Homo sapiens: one gene and its partner. The protein of the gene in region 1 interacts with the protein of each later gene in a pairwise test. Each region holds a gene or a part of one and is shown on either strand. Other genes may lie near its edges. The genes, in order: IGSF1 and HECTD1.

Evidence for each region.
Region 2: the proteins of IGSF1 (region 1) and HECTD1 interact in a two-hybrid assay, tested with the Homo sapiens proteins (one study listed by BioGRID and IntAct).

The regions. Positions count from the first base shown.
Region 1 is NC_000023.11:131,285,446-131,294,088, forward strand, and holds the start of IGSF1 (immunoglobulin superfamily member 1 isoform 1 precursor), read right to left. Parts: upstream 3,862-8,643; 5' UTR 3,769-3,861; intron 3,617-3,768; exon of another isoform or gene 3,577-3,616; intron 1,297-3,576; 5' UTR 1,230-1,296; coding exon 1,160-1,229; intron 1,019-1,159; coding exon 992-1,018; intron 604-991; coding exon 322-603; intron 22-321; coding exon 1-21. UniProt on the Homo sapiens protein: Seems to be a coreceptor in inhibin signaling, but seems not to be a high-affinity inhibin receptor. Antagonizes activin A signaling in the presence or absence of inhibin B.
Region 2 is NC_000014.9:31,106,193-31,114,634, forward strand, and holds part of HECTD1 (E3 ubiquitin-protein ligase HECTD1), read right to left. Parts: intron 8,149-8,442; coding exon 8,094-8,148; intron 7,868-8,093; coding exon 7,685-7,867; intron 7,293-7,684; coding exon 7,085-7,292; intron 6,998-7,084; coding exon 6,912-6,997; intron 6,352-6,911; coding exon 6,224-6,351; intron 3,407-6,223; coding exon 3,205-3,406; intron 1,513-3,204; coding exon 1,375-1,512; intron 1,062-1,374; coding exon 454-1,061; intron 1-453. UniProt on the Homo sapiens protein: E3 ubiquitin-protein ligase which accepts ubiquitin from an E2 ubiquitin-conjugating enzyme in the form of a thioester and then directly transfers the ubiquitin to targeted substrates.

The DNA of each region.
Region 1 (8,643 bases):
AGATGGGCTTGGGCAGTTGGCCTGGAAGGATAGAATGAACTGGAATTAGGTAAAGCAAGGATAGTACTGTCTAGGGAGCAGCAGAGGAGAGCTCTACTTTAATTGAGGTTTCCCTGTATGATCCTTGTTTGCCACCCCTCCTTCTCCTATCTCTGCTCCAGAGTCTGCATCCCCCCTCTGCATTGCCCAATACAAAGTAGGCCCTTATTTACTAACTGTGGGATGCATGCTTGCATGCATTTGTGAAACAAACTCTCCCCTGGAAGGCAAGTTTGAATCTCAGGAGCTGGAGTTGATTCTTGAGTATCACTGTCATCTTACCTGGTGCCTCCAACTCTAGAACTTTACTGGGCTTTGACCAGCCTGTCTCCTTCCAGTAGCAGCACCGGTAAAGACCTGCATTGGACTCAGTAAGGGCACCTATAAGGAATGAAACTTGGAAGGTCTTGTGGGAAGGGCGGATCCAGGTCATCTGTGTCTTATCCTTCAGCAGCAGGAACTTGCTTGATATCCGAGAGGGGCTTCGGCACCAAAGCGTGATGTTCTCCCAAGGGGCCTGGGGGTAGTTGGACTCTATCCACAACTCTGGTTGAGGGTCCATCACTGTTATTCCCAAAGATCAAAAAGATATGAGCAGTCCAACCCTCTCCCTCCCATAACATGTCCCACAATGTCCCTTAAAATTAGCCCGGACCCAGATCCCTCATTTTGTCTTCCCTTGGGGACAGGAGTGTGCTCCTGTGGGGCATCGTATAAGAACCCCAAGATATTTTGTCAAGGGGTCCAAATGAATTGGAGAATAAAGTCTGATGGTCTCTTTTCCATCTGAGATAAAGCTTTTTCACCATGCCATAGGAAACCAAGTCCTCTGATTCCCAATCAGCCCAATCTATCTCTGGAATCTCAAGGCATTATGTCCAAGGTCATGGAGACACGCCAGCATCTTGGATCCTTTAGGAAGGAGGTGCCTGAGAGGGCAGGACTCACTTACCTATTGATGTCATACCCAGACTCATCCCTGAAAAGAGAGATTATGGTAAAGGAGAGCTCCCTTGTTGTCTCCATCCTGTGCTCAAACCTCAATACTTTCCTCTCCCACCCCTAATGAGTGGGTACCTATGACAGGGTCACTTGCCCCTCACCCCTTCCTTGTACTCACGAATGCAAAAGAGCAAAACAGTGAATGTCTTCAGCATGGTGGCCCCCTCCCCTGGTCTGTCCAGGGTCATGGGGCCTCTGGTGCTGGCTGTGTGCTCTGAGTCTTGAAGAATTTTTCTCCTCAGCAGGTGGTGGGATCTAAAAGCAGAATTGTTTTTACTCAGAGGACTTGTCCTGCTCCTTAAAGTTTAGTTTAGATGGCTAAATTGCACTTGACAACCCTACATTGTACTTCCTCACAGGCATGCAGGGTATTACAAGGTCACCTGCTGCTTCCTCTCCTTGCTCCTTTCCCTCACTTCCCTATCCTGCTCAAGGTCTTTGTTGGTATCAAAGATGTCAGATTTGTTGAAATATGGATTTGTCTCTGGGATCTCAGAAGCCCAGAATAGCCTGCAGAAGCTCCACAGGATGGGGGAGATGGGAGGTGCAGAGTCACCTTTTCAGATATGCATATATATATATATACGTATGTTTATATACGTATATATATGTGTATATACATGTATATATATGTGTGTATATATACGTATATATGTGTGTATATATATACGTATATATGTGTGTGTGTGTGTATATATATATATAGAGAGAGAGAGAGAGTCCTCCAACAACTTAAGAGAGGGGGCATTACTACCATCCCCATTTTACTGATGAACAAACTGAGGCTTAGAGAGGTTATATAATTTGCCCAAAGTCAAAAGATATTAAATATTAGAGCCCAAATTAGAATCCATGTTTAACTCCAAGGCCTATGGATCTAAAACAATGATTTAAACTCCCAGAGGTACCCTTCACTCCCTCTTCACCCTCCCTTACCCCTCTCACTTGATCCCTTGGATATCCTTCCCTTCCATAGAATGCTTTAGATCCAATATTACTCTCATTCTTGTCTCCTACCCCTAAAAGCTCAATACCCCAGTGTCAAGCATGTGTTAGAAAATCAAGCTGCTTGAGTTAATTTACATAAGGTCTAAATGATTCTTTCGTTGCCCTTAACTTCTAAACAGTTTTGTTGATTGCCTCTAAGGGAAATGGAATTGTTTGAATCTCAGGAAATACGGCAAAGATATTTGAGTTCAGGGAGGCTTTCCATTCTCCCTGACCAAAGTCATTATTTACCATAGGCCTTGCATATACACAAGGTAGACTCTTGAGCTTTCATGCCTCTCTCCACCTCCCCCCACAGTAACCTTTCACCAAGGGAAGGTATGTCCCAGCCACGCAAACTCAAGCTAATTCTCTTCCACCAACTTTCTACTGGGAGTCTGAAGTCCTGGCTGACTCCAGCTGTTATTAAATCTTAGCTCAGAAGAGTGGGGAAGAGGCAGCTCCCAGAATAGAGAAAGGAACTGATTTTGCTTTTCCAGACTGACCTTGGACCTCAGCCTCAAACTTGCCCCAGTGCTAACACTGGGTAGGATGGAGGAGCAGGAAGAGGAGGATATTTCGTGTTCAAAATATCTGGACTGTAGGGAACAAGTGGACAGTGAGAAATCCAAGGAAGCATAGGTCCATTGTACATTTTTCACTTTGTATCAAAGGATTTTCAGATTACCCACTCTGAATTTTCCTTATCTGTAAAGTGGAGGAGTAATATCGACCTAACATTATTGTTGTGTTGGGTTAGAGATAATACATGTACAGTGCCAGGCACATAGTGAACATTACATTTTAAAAAGATGCTTATTTTTTCTTCTTTTCAAAGGGGGCATCCAACTGGTGTAGGGCCCTAAAGATGCCCTTTCCATCTCAGTTCCTACAGTCCCTTGCTCCCACTCCTCTCAGGGCCAGGCCAAAGCTTGGATGCTACCCTGTTGCTTTGTTACCCTGGGGCTTTGGGCCAGGAGTTTTTGGGGGAAGCCAGGTTCCACTGCCAAGGGAGAGGTTCAACCTGGGATTACACCCAGGAAATGCCATCTGAGGTTTCAGCCTTGCCACTTGGACCCCTAAACCAGGATCTTTGCCTACTGGGGGATTGAGGGGAGTCAGGGAAGCTGGGCTTTTTGGCATGGCTGACCCCTCCTCAATCACTAAGGAAATTGTACCATTTATATTCAGCCCAGATGATGAATCTTATACCGGGGGAACATGAGAACAGCCCCAAGCCTTGGGTTAGTTGGCCACGCCCATTTTGGCCTTTCACCCCACCCCCACCCCCAACTTTGGCTGCCTAGCCGTTTTACCCTTCCCTCCTACTCCACCCCAAGCACTTTCCCCACCCTTAGGCAGCGCCGCAGTGCTTTTGAGGGTGACATATCTGAAATGTCTAATGGCTCGCCCCCTGCATAGCTTTGAGGGCTCCAGGAATCAAAGGGGTTGGGCTCGGCGGGGTGCCGGGTACATGCTCAGCTGAGGGTTTGGAGGGAAGACTGAGAAGGAAAAGGGGAGATATCTACAGTGCCCAGAGATTCTCACCGAGGCAGGTCTGGGATCCGGGAAGGAAAGGAGAAAGGCAGGAATGAAGCGGGTGGGGGGACAGACTGGGGAGCAGTTTGATTTACGGCAATTAATTACAGCAAGGAGACTCTTTCGGGGTTTTGTTTAGGATCCGGTGGCCAGTATTTAATATTCAGCCACTGAACTATGCGCTCATTTGTAGGTACTTACGGTAGTTGAAGGCCCGCTCCGATGTTGGAGATTCTCCAGTGAGCTCCTCCAGATGCAGCAAACTGCCCGGCATGAGAAGAGCTGTCTAAGGACAGCCTCTTCGGCTCTGAGCCCCGCCTTCCTCTCTCCCCCGCCCGCCTGCCGGCCCGCCCCAACCTCCTCCCCTCCCTGCGCCGGGCTCGGGGAGCCCACCTACACCAACTCTGCCTGGCACCTGCAGTCCTCTGACGACGGGGATTTCTACGCCCCTCCCAGCTCCCCGCCTCTCTCCGGACTCCCTGCAGAGGTTGCTGGAGCCAAATTCAGGCCCCTGCCCCCTCGCCTGTCTCTCAGAGTTTCACTGGGTCACTGTATTGTGGGGGGGAGAAGGCCAGCTCTCAAGAAGATTTGTAGATCCTTCTCTCCAGCTCCCCAATACCTTTATCGGGATCTCAGATCTTCCCCTGCCCATTTTAACGCCCCATTTATGCATAAACATCACCACAGTTTAAGTGCCTACTGTGTGCCCCTGGGCCCTGGGATCCATTATTTCTCATCTTCAGAGCAACTCTGCAAAATAAGTGTTACTCCCCTCAGTTTTACAGATGAGGAAACGGAAACTCAGAGAGGGTTAAGTAACTTGGACAGCCTTCAAAGTCCATCTTGGGGTAAAAGCCCAGGCTTTAGAGACATACAAATGTATATTTTAGTCCACATTTTACATTCAATAGTTGTGTGACCTCAAGCAAGTGAGTAAACTCTCTGAGTCCCAGGTTCCCCAACAGTAAAGTAAAAAACAAACAAACAAACAAAAAACAGCAGAACCTATTTCACAAGGCCTCAATGGGATGATGTAAGTAAAACTAACAGCACAATAGGCCTAGCATGTAGTAGGTGCTCAATAAATGGTAGTGGTTGCTGCTGCTACCACTACTACTACTACTATTAATCTGTAAGCCCTTCCCCAAATGTCTTAGAGTAACATGATTTTAATAATATAGAGCAACCTTTCACAAATGTTGATTATGAAAGACTTTTTATAATGATAATGTATGAATAAGACACTAATCAAAGCTCCTGATATATAACATATGATGAGATTAAAGTATAGCATCCAATGGGCTCACAGACTAATTGATAAGAAATATCAACATGATAGACTAATTGGCTAAAAAATAGACAAATTTTTCTTTATGTACATTTCCTTTTTTTTAAGACAGTCTCACTCTGTCGCCCAGGCTGGCGTGCAGTGGTGCGATCTTGGCTCACTGCAACCTCCACCTCCCAGGTTCAAGCAATTCTCCTGCTTCAGCCTCCCGAGTAGCTAGGATTATAGGCGCGCACCACCACACCCAGCTAGTTTTTGTATTTTTTAGTAGAGACGGGGTCCCACCATGTTGGCCAAGCTGGTCTGGAGGCTCAGCCTCCTAAACTGCTGGGATTACAGGCGTGAGCTACCATGCCCAGCCTTTTATGTACATTTTCTACCTGCATAAAAGATTTCAAATTATCTAATGAAAAACACTTTAATTCAAGAACAAACTGTGTAAAAATAAAGTAACAGCTCTTTTACAGCCAAATTGATTATCATATCTTCATGCATCAGGTGATATCAATTGTGGCTTCCATTATAAACTATAGATTATTGTGTAATGAATAGAATAGGCATATGAATAAAAAGATGTGTTTCTGGGCAAGTTATTTAGCCTCCAAGCCTCAGTTTTCTTATTTGTAAAATGGGGATAATAATTGCACTTACTACAATGAAGGGTTTGGGGTAGGATTGAATGGAAACCTTCCTGTAAGCCACCACATAGCACCTAGGACACAGCAAGCAGCCATTGATTCAACACAAATGTTAAGTACTTTCTTTGTGTCAGGGATTGTTCTAGATGCTGACAGTTCAGAAAGGATGACAGTTTCTCTTCTTAAGGAGTTTGTAGTCTAAGGATAAATCATACTAGAGAAGAAGTAGGAGGCAGCCAGAGAAGGAGGAGCCTTGAGAATCAAAGAGGATTGCAATAGAAAAGATCATCAAGTAAGTCATGATAGTATGTGTTTGGATAATTGCAAGCACTTTGCTTGTACTGTGTGCCTAAACTAGGGAGCAGTAGCAGAGAAGGAGGGGAGGGTCAGAGTTCCCAAAACATTGAGAAGGCAACATTAGACAAACTTGATGGTTGTTTGGAAGACAACAGTAATAGTTATTATCTGTCAGGGTGAAAACATCCATGCCAATTTTCAAAACATTTACAGTATAGAAGAGCTTCAAGAAAGTGGAGCTTGAAGGATAGAGGTGAAGCACCAAGGTTCACAGGGTGTTGTGGGAAGCCTTTCTCCATAAGCGAGTCTAATGTAAGATGATGATATTTTTTAAACCTAACTCTGTTTTATATATCCCAAACAGGAGAAGCCCAGGGCAAACCTGATCCCTTCCCAGTGTTGTACTGATGTTGGCTAGCTCTGTATGGTTCAGGAGAACCCAATGTGCACATCTTATCTCATCCCAGCATTCAATGACATAATGGTAGTAGCTTGAAAGTGGCCATGGTCAGAGAATTTTCACCACAGTCAGGGAATTTTCACAACTGAAGAAGTAAATGCTACAAATCAAGTTTCTCCCAGCAACCTTCACATCTCTGGAGCTGTTTTTAAACATTTACTAGCAAACCACTTTTTTTCCAGTTTTATGTTTTAGGACAGTGATTTTTACTGGGAAACAGGAAGGTTTCCAAACTGCTCAAGGATCCTGTTAAGTTTCATACACTCTCAAGAAAGTTATGAGCACTGTGCTCCATTCCCCTGTCCCCAACCTCACTACTCTAGTAAGCCATCTGAGGACTGTGTCAGATCTCTGGAGAGGTCTGTGCATTCAAAGTTTGACTGTGTGTTTTAGCATCCCACCCCACTCCTCAGCCAGTCCCAGGCCCCATCCCTTTCTGCAATGGAGAAGCAATGTGGAGTATACCAGTGAGGAACTCAGCTGGGACTAAGCAAGTGGCGTTCTGGGGCAGGGAGGAGGTCCAACCAGACAGATTAGGTTCCAACGGCAAGACCTGATGAGGAGGGGGTTAGGCTTTGGAGGTGGGGAGGTCAAAGCTGCAAAGGAAAGCTGGGGCCAACTCACAGAGCTTGAATTTCAACTTATCTTTTGTCAAGCACTTTAATTATTAAGGGCAGAGTTTGGGGCACTAAGTCATTTCCAGAAGCTATAACTGAGGGCATTTTCAGGAGTGTGCAGGAAGCTTCCTAGAATAAACCAAATTCAAGTGATGAATTAGAACTAAAACTTATTTAATCAAAACACTCATAGTGGGGCATTAGACATTAGATAGAGGCCTGGATGATCAGGCTTCTGGGTGCTTGTCACAAAGCAAACCAACAATGTGAATACCTAGGTGATTTTAACAAGTTTAATGGGTGGAGGGAGAAAATGAGGATTTTTGTGTGTGTGTTTCAGTGTTAGCAGAATCACAAAGTTCTTTTTGGTTTATGTACCATTTACCAAAAAAGGTAATCTACTAGTCCACTGTCTCCAAATGACAATTCTCTTAGCATCACAATATGGCTTTTGTTTATACGAGGAACAGTGTGTATCTGAGTACATGGTGGGGGAGGGTGTTCAGAGACAGATATCCAAAATGCAGGAGAGCTCCGAAAGTGGGCTTCAAAGTGTTTCAGTATTCCCTTTTCCTGTGTTGGATGAAGTTGGTGGCTCCAGAATGAAAGGAGGTAGGCTCAGCCTCACTGCCTAGAGCAGGCAGGCACAGGTTCTATAAGCAGTTTAGGCCTGATCCAGGAAGGATGCTTCCAGATACCAGTGCCAGGAAAGCCTTTTTCTGTCTCAGAGTCTGACTTGCCCCCAGTGTGTCCAAATTGTAGGCATTTGCATGGTGGGGCAGGGGTGGGAATGGGTGTGTTGTGGTGGGGGGATGGGGGGGGAGGGGGGAATGCCGCTTGGGAAGGCACAACTGGTCTCTCTAATATTTATTTACTCGTAATCACTTGTCCAAAGGAAACTATAGAAGTCAATAATTTGGTTCTTTTATTCCTACGTATTGTATGATTAAACAATTATATGATTAAAATTAAGTAAAGATGGCTAAACTGCAAGAGCAACACAAATTAGCAATTTAAAAACTCATCATTGCAATATTACCAACTGTTTATAATCTGTTCCTAAAAACATCAGTTTACAGGCAATTATTTAAATATACATGCATCTCTTCCAATTCTACTTGTTTTGTGATCTAGGATATGGTCAGACTTTCTGAAAGATTCATGTACCCTTGACAGAAGATGAGGAAATACTTTCTCCATAAAAGTCTGTTAAGTTCATATAATTGATTGCTTTCAGGTAGACAATACAAATTATTTTTTTTCTTAATCTATCATATTTCAATGTCTCCCTATCCAACTCATGCTTAATTATTATCTTGCTGTTTTCATTTTCTCCCTCCCGTTTATCCCTCCTTCATTCTTTCCCATTTTCCTTTTTGAACTTTCCTTATCATCCTTTCCCATGCATTCTGTGTGTGTGTGTGTGTGTGTGTGTGTGTGTGTGTGTGTGTATAGCTATAGATATACACACATAATAACAACTTGGTACAACCGTAAATTTTTACTTCCTTTTCCGCTAATCACCCTGGCAAAAACGCAATTAATTATAAAAATAAGATCTACACTCTCTTAAGAAATGTGGCTTTGAAAGTGAATTTAGTCACTTATCTCCGCGAGTATCTTCTCCCTGGGCTGCAGCTGTTTTCAGCAAAACCAATAGTTTGGGAGTTTTACTGACAAATGCCTTGAAGTCATCTTGACTGCCAAAGATTTTCCTCTCATCTTGAAATAAGAAAGATAGCTTAGCTGAATGGTTCACATGGGGCTTCAAGCCCA
Region 2 (8,442 bases), on another chromosome or scaffold:
CTAAAATCACAGCTGAAGATATGATAATTACCTGTACATAAAGTAACAGAGTTTTATCAAAAGTTCTGCAGCATCTCAACTGCTACAGCCTTTGGTGATAAAGCTGACATACCAACCAATTTTTGAGCTTTGCAAAGTGAATCATATATTAGCAGATGAATTTGTCAAAATATTGTTGGCTCTGGACATTTTACACAGGCATATAAATTCACATTGGCTAAGTCAGGTAATCTTCTAAAGGTTTGATGATTAATAAACTAATATTCTAGTATTCTGAGTGTTGTCTTTATAATATTAAATCAAAGGTTCAAGTCGATCATCAATATTTCCTACAGCATATTACTGTTTTTGACAGACTATTTACTCATATATTGCAAATCAGTGACGACAAAGAAACAAAAGCTTTAAAACTTATTCATGCATTGGATTGAAGAATGTACATATAATGCTTACCCTAAATCCTCTATGCTAAGTGGAGGCCCAGAACCTGATGGATTCTTCAGCACTAGTTCCTGTAATTTTGTGTTCTTCTCATCTTCAGAAAGACCTTTGTTGCTTAAAATTTGGCGCCTCTTGATAGCAAGGTCTTTAATTTCTTTTAAAAATCTGGCTCTGTGTGGGTTTACTAATTCAAAGTCTTCCCAAGTCAAAATTCCATTAAACCAAGCTGGGGGTTTTGGTTTAGGGGGATCAAGAATAAATTCTGATTTTGAATCCTCTTCAAAGCTTCCTACCGAGAGTGAATCATGACCTTCTTCTGTAGAAGCTTCAGACTGACTTTCAGTACAGTGTAAGTCTCTATCACCTCGTGACTCATAAATCAGTTTACTCATATTGCTTTTAATGTCACCCATACACATAAGTTTAAAAAAAGGTTTAGAAATAGGTAAGTCCACAAGTCTATTGTCTTGAATGCATTTGGCCAAGAAAATTCCAAGGAAATGAAACAGTTTCGTGATCCTTTCAAGCTCATCACTATCCTGTGGAAATGGTGCTGTGAACAGTCCACATGACCTCTGCACATAATATCCAGGAGGTTTCAATCCACCTCCAAGATCAACCTAATTTTTTAGAGGGTGAAATGCAAATAAAATTAAACAAAAGTTAATAGAAACTAAGCCTATCATCATCTAAGAAAAAAATCCATAAACATTAAACATCTTCATGAATTTGGCTATCTAAAAGTATATAATTTTATTAAATAGCTTTTGGTGACTAAATTTTATCGCTTTAGAACTATTTTAATTGCATCAAGATTATTCAATAATAAAAGTAGAGTCAGAAACCTGGCTTATGCTCTGAACACATAACCTATTTTTAACACTTTTGAAAGCAGAGTCACAACTCAAGTCACAAAATGAGAAATATTCTTACGTGACGAGATTCATCATCTGGAAAATTATCATCACAAAGCCAAGCTCCCAAGTCAGTTCTCTGGAATTCTGCTGCCACCAGAGCATAAAACTCTAATGTGGGTCCCAAGCCAGTTCCTTCTTCTCCTAAAAATTCAACCTAAAATATGAACAAATAAATTGTGGGTTAAACGTAAAGTTTGGGGTGTTTTTAAAAATAATCTAATTCTTGTCAAAATTTATCATATCTGATCCAGTAATGTACCTTTTTTCAAAATAGCAGTGTATATATATAATAAACAGCACAGAAGTGTTATTTTAATTTTCCTAAAGAGTCCACTTGTTGTACACTATTACATGCTTAAGCACTGTGCCAAGCATCATTCATACATTTACTTCTCACAACAACCCTGCAAAATAATTATTTCCTTTTTACACCAAAGGAAACCAAATCTCAGATAAGGAGGTTAAATCATTTGCTTGAAGAAATGATGGTGAACAGACTTTTGTGTGTCTCTGTGTGACACCAAAGCCTAGACTCTTCCACTTTTTAATTTTTATTTTTTGAGACAGTTTCACTCTTGTCGCCCAGGATGGAGTGCAGTGGCACGATCTCAGCTCACTGCAACCTCTGCCTCCCGGGTTCAGGCGATTTTCCTGCCTCGGCCTCCCAAGTAGGTGGGATTACGGCATGCACCACCATGCCTGGCTAATTCTGTATTTTCAGTAGAGACAGGGTTTTACTATGTTGGTCCGGCTGGTCTCAAACTCTTGACCTCAGGTGATCCACCCACCTCAGCCTCCCAAAGTGCTGGGATTACAGGCATGAGCCACTGCGCCTCGCCTCTTCTGCTTATTTCTGAGTTAAAGACACTTTAAATCATTTTTGCAACAGGAAGAGTATGGACAAAAACCCTTAAAGTGATTGCATAAAGTATAATAAAAACTACAGCATATGGTTAAAAAAAAAGATTATCTATATTAGAAGAATGTAAACAACTGGGCATGGTGGCTCAAGCCTGTAATCCCAGCACTTTGGGAGGCCGAAACGGGTGGATCACTTGAGCCCAGGAGTTTGAGACCAGCCTGGGAAACATAGTGAGAACTTGTCTCTATTAAAAAAAAAAAAAAAGAAGAAGAAGAACATAAGGGTAGGAGGAATACAATGAAAGTCTGTATATAAAGTGAAAGATGTAAAGCCTTGGACATCTTCTAGAGATGTATCATATTTCTTGCAATTAGTTTATGATCCAAAAGTTAAAAACAAACCAGTTGGATTCACCCCTGTGACAGGAGACGTATTTCCACTCTTCCTCATATAGGGAATACTGTGTATATGAAATAAAACCAACAATGTCCACAGTAACATTTCTAAACTAAATATATTAAATGTCATACTACCATTTGCTATAACATGTCTCAACACAGACCAGTGATATAATACCAAGCACAATTCAAGTGAAACAATATTACAAAACCAGGTGCTCCCAAAATATCAAACAGCACAGTTTAATGTAAAAGTAAAAAAGAATCCCTTGTGAGTACTACTATTTTAGTCCAACTTTGTTATGAAATGGGTAGAAGCCCTCAAGCAGAACAAGCACTTTGCCACCTCAAGAGTGGAGATCTTCTTTGTTGCTCATTAATGGCACAAGACCTAACCCCTAAGGAGGTGGACTGACATCCTCTTATGAAAAAGATGCTCTGCCAGAGGAGAAGGCTTCTGCCTACAGAACAGGAAAACCCCTCTTCATGTTTACCTACCACAGTTTTTAATGCAGTGAAGATACACATTGGGCTGGTTCCCTAAGTGTCATTCCTGTTCCCTAAATCTAATTTTATATGAGATTACCTCAAGAACTGATTTCCGATCTGCATGTATTTGCATGACATTCTCAGCCCATTCCATCAGTGACTCGCCACGTGGAACTTTTACTCTTTCATGCTTGAGACGACCAACTCGAAACTCTCCAGGGTCATCTCGCCTAACACTGCTTGTGGTTCTCGTTCGCTCCACAGTGGCTTCACGTCGGTTCTGTAACCATACTATTGCTCTGAAATAGAAAAATATCTATGAGCTGCAGCATACGTTAACAGCTGAATGTACTACTAAACCAGCAACAGAATTCAAAGATTTAAGAAATTAAAAAATAGTATTTTATCAGGTGATTTTTAAAACACAGTAATCTTTTTTTGTTACATAAACTGCTTCCTGTCACAAGTAAAAATATATGAAACTCCTTTTATTATAATCTGCCTTAAGCAAACTGAGAAAGTACTGGGTCTATATTTTGCCTCCTTATTTTAGCAGTTCAATAAAAATAATAATCTGTTGTCCAAGCCCCAACATCATTCAAAAAAAGGAAAAATGTTTCCTATCAGAGAAATTTAGAAATGATTAAGCTATCTTTCAAACTGAAAGCCGCCATCAAAACGGTAATTATAATTTTAAAACAATTTTTCTTTTTTTTTTTTGAGATGGAGTCTTGTTCTGTCACCCAGGCTGGAGTACAGTGGCATTATCTCGGCCCACTGCAACCTCCCTATCCCGGGTTCAAGTGATTCTCCTGCCTCAGCCTCCCCAGTAGCTGGGATTACAGGTGTGTGCCACCACGCCCAGCTAATTTTTGTATTTTTAGTAGAGATGGGGGTTCTGCCATGTTGCCCAGGCTGGTCTTGAATTTCTGGCCTTAACTGATCCACCCGCCTCAGCCTCCCAAAGTGCTATGATTACAGGCATGAGCCGCCACACCCGGCCACATTTTCTTTTTTTTAATAACAATCCATTTATGGTGGGAGGAAGAACCGACAATTAGGAATAAGAAGCTGAAGGTTCTACTCTCATGTGTGCTACTATTTTCTCATGATCTTAGGCAAATCAGCTAAGTACGTGCAGAATCAATTTCCTCATTTATAAAACAAATTATAATCAATGCCAGTTATCACAACATGCCTATAGTTCTATGTATATAAATGCTTTGTAAATGGCATTAAATGGTACAAAAATGTAACTATCAGGGAAGAAAACAAACAGTTTAAATTATAACTTTTTTTTTACAACTATTTTGGAAGAGTACTTAAGGTAAACAATCATTCAACAAAATATTTATTGAGCACCTACAATGAGTCTTGCTCTGTTGCCCAGGCTGGAGTGCAGTGGTGCAATCTCAGCTCACTGCAACCTCTGCCTCCCGGGTTCAAGCAAATTCTTATGCCTCAGCCTCCTAAAAAGCTGGAATTACGCCCAGCTAATTTTTGTGTTTTTTTGTAGAGATGGGGTTTTGCCACATTGGCCAGGCTGGTCTCGAACTCCTGGCCTCGAGTGATGTGTCTGCCTTGGCCTCCCAAAGTGCTGGAATTATAGGCATGGGCCACCGTGCCCAGCCTGAAAACAGAAACTTTTTAAATGCTTTTTTTTTTTTGGTAAATTACTTCTTCCATGATTAGAGGGACTATCTTCAAAGTAGTACAAATATTTCGTAAATAATATCTGACCATTTTCTAACCAATTGAGTAATTTGTTGCACAATAAGCCATCTCACATCTTTCAGCAAGAAATACATTAAATTTGAATAGTAAAGACATTACACAATTAGGCTTAGGACAAAATTAAAATTTGCCTGAAGTATTTCTTTGGGGGAGAGGACACCACACTTCTACTCAAGGAAGAGAAACATTTTTACAGTCCAGAGGTCTTTTATTTTTATCTTTATTTTTTATTTTTTTGAGATGGAGTCTCGCTCTGTCGCCCAGGCTGGAGTGCAGTGGCACAATCTCTACTCACTGCAAGCTCCACTTCCCAGGTTCACGCCATTCTCCTGCCTCAGCCTCCCAAGTAGCTGAGACTACAGGTGCCCACCACCACACACAGCTAACTTTTTGTATTTTTAGTAGAGATGGGGTTTCACCACGTTAGCCAGGATGGTCTCGATCTCCTAACCTCATGATCTGCCCGCCTCGGCCTCCCAAAGTGCTGGGATTACAGGTGTGAGCCACCGCGCCTGGCTATTTTTTTTAAACACTATTATGCATGAATTCACAGAGAAGAGGTTCCAGCAGCTCAGACTTCTTTCCCTTGGTTTTCACACAGCGCGCTTCTCTGGGTGGAACAGGCTGGCACTTCAGCTAAATGCAGGTACCTTTCTCTTTGGCTTCCTTCTTTTTCTGATCATTTTCCTTCATGTGTTTCAGGAAGCTATCTCGGCTCTTAGAGTGCTTAATGTGCTCAATATGCACATTAATTCTCTTGGTAAGAATCTTGCCCTTGTTTGTTTACAACAATGCCATTAGCCACGCGTGGTGGCGTGCACCTGTAATCCCAGCCACTCAGTGGGGCTGAGGCAGGAGAATCGCTTGAACCTGGGAGGCGGAGGTTGCAGTGAGCCGAGATCACACCACTGCACTCCTGCCTGGGCGACAGAGCGAGACTCTGTCTCAAAAAAACAAAAACAAAAACAAAAACAAAAAAACAGCAATGCCAACAGCCTGCTGGGTAACACTGTAGACTCTTCCAGTTTAGCCACGGTAACACTTGTGGGGCATTCCTTTTTGAACAGTACCCATTCCCTTAATGTCTACAGTATCACCTCTCTTTTAGATTTGCATATACGTGGCCAAAGGAACAACTCCATGTTTTCTAAAAGACCTAGAAAACATCTATCGGGTATCTCTCCTCCTTTCCTTTGGATTAGTCATTTTGGCGAATTACTAGAAGATTGGTAGTTCAGGCCAAAAGGCAATGCTGACTATTCTTTATAAGAATACAAGATAATATATTCCCTCTATCAGTCTTGACAGTATAGTTGTACATTTTCAACTTACATAACATAAAAGCATACTTATTCTAAAAACATAAAAAAAAGGCTTCTTACCTTGAGGCGCCAAATGCTGTACATGTGAAATAAAGCTGTCTAGTTTCAAATGGTATTAGAAAAGGACATTTGCTGGTTAATTGTTCACACCAGTCTGGCAGAGCCCCACTTGCCAGTGCCAATGGTTCCTGCGAATTAACAAATAATAATGTCTTAGTGCTATAAGGCATTCATGCATGCATGCATTCATTCATTCGTTCATTTTTTTTTTTGAGACAGAGTCTCACTCTGTTGCCCAGGCTGGTGTGCAGTGGTACGATCTCGGCTCACTGCAGCCTCTGCCTCCTGGGTTCAAGCGATTCTCCTGCCCTAGCCACCCAAGTAGCTGGGATTATAGGCATGTGCCACCGTGCCCAGCTAATTTTTGTATTTTTAGTAGAGACTGGGTTTCGCCATATTGGCCAGGCTGGTCTCGAACTCCTAGCCTCTAACGATACACCCACCTTGGCCCCCAAAATGCTGGAATTACAGGCATGAGCCACCACACCTGACCCTATAAGGCAATTATTAAAAATTACCAAGTCAATTATAAACCTGTAATTAGGAAATAAATGCAAAGGACCATATAGCTCAAATTACCAATCAGAGGGAAGGGAAAGATGGTGAGAGGTAGAAAAGAAAGTAAAGGGAATATTAGGAAAAGTCCAACAGTAATAGAATGAAGAGTTCAGCTGTCTGATTTTATTACCTCAATCTGCTGTAATATTTTTGTTGTAATTTTTTTGCTAGTGAATTCATCTGGTGGAAAAGTAAACTGAGGCTGTTCATCACCATCTATAAAATTAATTAATAAAATTAATAAAAATATAAACTGACTTGCTTTAAAACTGCTATAGAAATGAAACAAGGCTTCTTACAGACCTTCCTGGGATATTCTTGAATAAGGGTCACTTGCAACTATATATAGAATACGCAGAAGCTGAAGGACATCTTCTACTCCACAAGAGTTCTGTCCATTGCCTGCTTTGGCCTGAGGTTGTTCTTTTGTTAAATTAAGAATATCACTACTTTGAAGAGTAGAAATGGCCCCCTGGTTTAACCCAGACTTTGTTCCATGCTCACAAAAATCCTATAGAAACAATTAGAAAAACTGGCCATTAATCACATTTTCAAGAAAAACAGTGTATCATTGTATCAATACCACTATGAAAGGGTTGGAATTTTTTAAAGTGCCTTCTTTTTAAATAAAAACATAACACAAGACATAAATCAAGGCATTCTAAACCATTAAAATTCCCAAATAAAATATAACCACTCTAAGCCATGGTCAAAGTCTGCATTCAGATCCAATGCTACCAGCCATATTTGAAATTTTAGAATTTGTGCATTAACAGTGTTAATTCAACCTCATTTTTAAAATTATGTCTCAATGAACTGCTGTTCCTTAAGAAGCTTCCAAAGCTGCAAAACAAAGCACGAAGCCATTTGCAATCAAAATAGTGTTTTGATGCCAATATATACCTTATATGCAGCTATGAGCTGAGAACAATTTCTGTTTTTCCTAATACTTTTATTAGTGCCAGTTAATTTCCAGTGGCGCAGGAAAGCAGCGTCTGCATTCTTCTGCAGGTAGGTTATCAAGTCATTCTTTGGTAATTCATCAGTGCCAAGGTACTGCTCCACATGCTCTATAGACCAGCAACCCTACAACAGGAAAAACCAAATGTTGGCCTTTCCCAATTATAAAGTCTATGATATTTCACATGCATTACATGAGGTAGCTTTAAGATCATGCACTTGGTCTAATCTAAAGAATTCCATGTTAGTCATTATTCCCTTCAACGTTCAACTGCAATACTGTGTTAGTTTTACTATCTTTCTTCTTTTAACTAAATAGCCAAGAGTAAACCAATGTTCTAAAATAACTTACCATTTTTCCATTTTCCTTTTCTTTATCAGAATCCTTCATTTCTCTGTACATGATTCTAAACATGAAGATATTCAAGTTAATTCATATATAATTTGTGATTATTTCCAATAAGGCTTCAATTCTTTAAAAAAAAAAGTGAATGTCATTCACTAGACATATGCCTGCACTGAACACTGAACTCAAGGAGGATTCTTTTTTTCTATATTTTTTGTAGAGATAAGGTTTTGCTATGTTGTCCAGGCTAGTTTCAAACTCCTGGTTTCAAGCGATGCTCCTGCCTTGGCCTCCCAAAGTGCTGGGATTAAGGTGTGTCACGACACCCAGCCTCAAGGAGTATTTTTAAGAAAAA